2 separate regions of the Homo sapiens genome follow, and region 1 is linked to region 2. Evidence: fine-mapped expression QTL. A gene starts in region 2. The other region holds a variant in brackets. All regions are shown on one strand. Distances are from middle to middle.

What was found. PIP is the estimated chance that this variant, and not a neighbour inherited with it, causes the effect.
Region 1: its variant is fine-mapped to the expression of EFNB3 in unexposed skin (GTEx, PIP above 0.99). The same link has a PIP of 0.9 or more in sun-exposed skin.

Annotation. Positions count from the first base shown.
Region 1 is chr17:7,785,951-7,788,450 of GRCh38, reverse strand. It overlaps DNAH2 (dynein axonemal heavy chain 2), which reads right to left. Exons shown (of 86, transcript NM_020877.5): 40 at 2,109-2,327; 41 at 1,764-1,881; 42 at 1,418-1,554; 43 at 454-591; 44 at 207-365. Among named protein-coding and RNA genes, the nearest start is that of KDM6B, 47 kb to the left of the region's middle. The variant C/T (reference allele first, on the strand shown) is at 1,365.
Region 2 is chr17:7,703,701-7,706,200 of GRCh38, reverse strand. It overlaps EFNB3 (ephrin B3), which reads right to left and starts at 999. Exons shown (of 5, transcript NM_001406.4): 1 at 481-999. The coding sequence starts at 602. RefSeq lists enhancers at 1-621, 2,306-2,385, 1,515-2,406, 2,407-2,500 and a silencer at 2,316-2,500.

The DNA of each region.
Region 1 (2,500 bases), 82 kb before region 2:
TTCAGCTCAATGCACACGTGCACACACACAGACATGCACACACACACCCCTCACTGCCTCCATGGTCGTTGAAGCCTCCCCCTGGAGTCTCTGCTCCACTCAAGCCTGGAGTTCAACCTGTCTCAGACACGCCGTTTCCCAGAAGTTGTTCTGGTGAGGCTGTGAGCACCCCCTGCCCCTGCCCGTGGTCTGTGTCCTCCCCTTACCCCATTCTCTGGCGTGGCCAGGGCAGAGTACAGCTTGCAGAGGGAGGTGATACCGCTGTACTCGGGCAGGGGCACCAGCTCCTTGCAGTTGTCCTTCTTAAAGGCCAGCATCTTGTTGATGAGCTTTTCGAACATGCGTTGAAGGGGCTCCACCTCAGCCTGGAGTTGAATAAGAAGGGGCTCTTCATTCACCCTTGTGTCCTGGAGCCACCCTGGTTACTTTCCCTCTCCTCAGTTCCCTTCATACCTTTGGCCTCTTCTCCAGCCATGACTGAACATAGGGCTTCCAGCCCAGGTCAGCGTAGTCAGTGTAGACCATCCCGCAGCGGGATACAGTGGCCGGAGAGGCCATTGCCAGGTCCTCCACTTCAAACAGGAGAGACACCTAAGGATATACGTTTGTCAGAACTTCATCTTTCTCTGCATCCCCCACCTTCAGGAATAATAAAACACCCGGAACTCGGATGCTACAAGTTCACAAACGATTTGCTTTTTTTTTTTTTTTTTTTAAGACAAAGTCTCACTCCGTCACCCAGGCTGGAGTGCAGTGGCGTGATCTTGGCTGACTGCAACCTCCGCCTCTCAGGTTCAAGCAATCCTCCCACCTCAGCCTCCAGAGTACCTGGGACTACAGGTGCACAACACCACACCCAGCTAACTTTTGTATTTTTTAGTAGAGATGGGGTTTTACCCTGTTGGCCAGGCTGGTCTTGAACTCCTGACCTCAAGTGATCTGCCCACCTTGGCCTCCCAAAGTGCTAGGATTACAGGCGTGAGCCACCCGGCCCGGCCCAGTTTGCTTTAAAAGAAACTAGAGCTTATTCAAGGTTGTCCTTTTGAAAAATCACTCTCTTGCTCGCATTGTTGGAGTGGGTGGAAAAGGGTGTGCTTGCCAGTCCGTGAATTCATACCTCTGGGTGCACAAACGAGGGTCCTGCCTCATGCATCCGTGAGAACGAGCCGAGGAGGGCCGCCCAAGCCTACACAGTGCTTACAACAGAGGGTGTTTTTCTTATCATTGTTCTCAACAGCCGCGGCAAGCAAAGCATTTTTCTTCAGCTGCAGGTTTCCCTGAATCCAGGCATCCACCTTTCAGCTCTCTCCCACAGAACCTGCCCTGCTCTGAGATTTCTGGCTCTCCTCCCCAGCCCCGGCCCA[C/T]GCCCTCCGGTGCCTGCCTCTGCAGGCCTCCAGGAGTCAGCCGCGTCCCTGACCTGCTCGGGCATCGCGATGCGCTCGCCGTTGATGAGGGTCAACACCTTGTTATCGTCCATGACGGAGTTCATGTTCTCGATCCACAGTGTGTCCACGGGGCCATCGAACAGGATCCACTTCTCGTCGGGTTTCTCATCTGAGTAGATGGTGGGTGATGAGGAAACCGGGGAGCCGCTCACCTTGCACCCTCCGCTCACGCTCCTCGGAGACACAAGCCTACACTCCCTTGTACTTCAGCATTCCCCAGGCATTTCTCTCCCAACTTGGAACTTCCTATCCCCAGACTCCCTGCCCCCTTAGGAGACTCAGGCGTCTGCTCTCCACACCCCACGATCCTCTGGATACCTGCACATGCCGTCCGCATGACACTGGACAAGATGCCATCTGTCCATTCATTGGTGCTGAGGTCATATTCCCCATACAGTTCCCCTAGGGACAATGCCTTGGGGTTCAAAGGGAACTCCTGAAAATGACACCGGAAGGGGTTTTAGCTGCTGATGGACAAAAACCCCTCTTTATTTCCAGACCCCTCTTAGGTACGTGCATTTGTCCCTTCTCTCATCGCTCCAGGCCACCATGGTCCCAGGTACAGCTCTCCCGGCCTTGCAAGGTCCTCCCTGGCCCCCACCCTCCATTGTCTTCTTACTACTCAAGTCTCTGCCCACTGACTCCACTGTCCCAGCCCCGTACTCTAACAATGTTGAAGTTAGGGTCTCCGGCGCGGCACAGAGAGGACAGGGAGGCCTGTAGAATGCGCCATGAGGCAGTCTTGCCGCTGCCCGTGCAGCCCACGATCATGGTGGAGTGGCGGGAGTTCTTGGTTTCATACAACTGGAAAACCTTGGTGAGGGTGAACGGCGTGCTTTGCAGGCCCATGTCTCGAATCTCCTGCTCAACGGTCTCCCGCAGCTGAGGGAAGGGAAAACACAGCAAGCAGAAGAAAAAGGATGAGGCCTTTAAAGGGCTTTCAAAATCTCCCCGGTGCCAGAGAGAATACGTTCAAACTGTTAAAAATGGCACCAGGGCCCTCTGCACTCCGGCTCTGTTCACTCATTGGGAAGCTGGCCCATTGCAGAGTTGAA
Region 2 (2,500 bases):
GAAGTTGTCCCCAGAGCCCCCAAACGGAACCCCCTTGCCTCCCATCTCGGATGCGCAGTCCCTCTGGGGGAGGGAGGCACCCTGCCCTGCCTTCCCCTCAGCGACTCGCAGCACCTAATCTGCAGCTCTCTCCTGAGAGCTGACAGTAACCAGGCTCCCTCCAAGCCCAGCCCCCGACGCAGGCCTCCCACAGATCCAAATACCCACCTCACTGCCCTCCCGGCTACCCATGAACTTTCTTCTCCTTGCCCCTTTGGGGTCTCCAAACTCCTGACATCCATAGCACCACCCGCATCCAGCTCTGCGTGGGACCCGGAGTCTGGCTCCCAAGATCACCTGTCTAGTAACCCATCACACATCAGAGCACCAGCACCTTCCCTCCCGCCTCCTCCCTGCCCACAGAAGCCCGCCTCCAAGCCCCCAGAGCTTCCCTACCCACTGCCCTAGGGTCTGGGATCTCCCCAGCCGCAGGCCACTCACCTCTTATTCGCCGAGTTCCAGTAGACAGGCTCCAGGCTGAGCCCAGACACCAGCCCCAAAACCCCCAGCAGCAGCAGGGCCCCGACTCGCACGCCCCCCGGCCCAGAATGGGGGGGCCCCATGACCCCGCCAAGGCCTGGGGGGCGGGGCACCAACTCCCCCAAAGTCGCCCACCCCCCGGGGTGGCTGCCTTGGCTGCCTGGCTCTTCAGCCCGGACCACCCCGGTAGCTGATGCCCCCAGCGCCCACGCGGACCTGCTTCCTGCTGTGCCCGCGCCCCCGCGGCAGAGCGCTCAGCCCCACCAGAGCCCTTCCAGGGGCCGTCTGCAGGCGCCCTACGCGCCCCCGGCCCACGCGCCAGCACCCCGGGATCTGTGAGCCCGCCTAAGTGGGGGACTGGGGGAGCCGGGGACCGGGCGGGGGCGGCATGGGGCGCCGGACCAGGGAGCGAGGAAGGGGGCGCCGAGCCGGAGCCCCAGCCTCGCTGGGATTGAGGGCAGCGGGCTAAGGGAGGAAACCAGTCCCGAGCCCAGGAGGGGGGAGTTAAAGGAGAGGCGGGGAGGGGCAGAGGATGGTGGAGGGAAAAACCGGAGCTGGAGCTCGAGGCGGAGCGGGCGGCAGCATCCCGCGGCCCACGCCCCCCACACCTCCCTCACCTCGCGCACCTCCCGCCCGCCGCCCCGCCTCAGCCCCCGGCGCGGGCTGTCACGCCCCCTTTGTCTCTCCGAGCCTCTGGCTCCGGCTGAGTTCTGCCCGGCTCCCCTCCTGCCCTCCGATCGCCCAAGCTGCTGGAATCTTCCTCTCTCGAATCCAGAAAGGCTCTCGCCCTCTCCACCCCGAGGAACCCACCCCTTTCGCTCCCGCAGCCTCCTCCTCCATCCCAAAACAACACCGCTGCTCCCGGCAGGTTTGGAGAGAATAATAATAACCTTGAAGGCTTGGCGCTTTACAAAGTGCGGCGGAGCTGATCGTCACGACTACCTGTGTGAAGTGGGAGGGGCAGAGCTAACGATCCCATTGCAGAGATGAGGAAACTGAGGCTCAGGGAGGCCCCGTGACTTGCCCAAGGTCACACAGGAAGTCTGGGATAAAGCTAGAAACCAAACCCAGGCTGCGCACCTCCCACTCTTGGGGTCTCTTTTGTCACTGCTCCATGGACCAAGTGCTGTTGTTACCTGGGGGTTAGTGAAAAACAAGAGTTTAGGGGATACACTTGGGTCTTTCCTAGATGGCTGGGGGGAGAAGCGGGGCTGGGAGAAGAAGGGGCGTACCTACAACCCCAAACCGGCGCTGCGCAGGAAGGGCTGTTTCCAATTATCCTGGGGGAAGGGAGGAGTTGCCTTTTCGGGTGTAAGAGCCCTGGCTTTCAGCACCTCTGGGCAGGGGTGACATTCCTCTCCCTCTCAAGCCTCCCCAGGCCTTTCGTCCCTTCCCTTTGATTGTGAGGTCCAAAATCACATCCCCTGCTGGCAGTATTTCTTCAAAGTCCCCCCATTCTCAGTGTTTGGGAAGGTGTTGGGGGGAGGAGGGAGGAGTCACTGCTTCAAATGACACACTCGTCCCCCACCCCCAAAGACAGAGCAGACAAATGGAGAAACAAGCCCAGCGACAGCCGCTGAATGAATAAGACCCTCGCCGCGCCCCGCATGGAACAGCAATATCAAAGGTGACGACTGTATTTTTCAACACCTTTACTCTTTTATGTGTGTCCTTGACTCTGGCAACTGGGTTGTCTGCCTCCTGGGGAGCCCCGGGGAGCGGAGGAGAGTGCTCCTGCTCCCCTCAGAGCTGAGTAATGGTCCCCATGCTGCTGGAGAATGGCAAACAGTGTGGAGTGTGGGCGACAGGCGCCCTGTCACTGTCTGCACAGTCTCACACGGTCACACCCAACAGTCTGACCCAGCTCCTGCTCAGCCCCGCTCACCCTGACCCCTGCCGCCCCCACCTTGGGAGTGAGATTTCAAACAGGTTTCCCCCTTCAGTTTACCAAGTTGCCTAGCAACCAACCAGTCAATGGCAT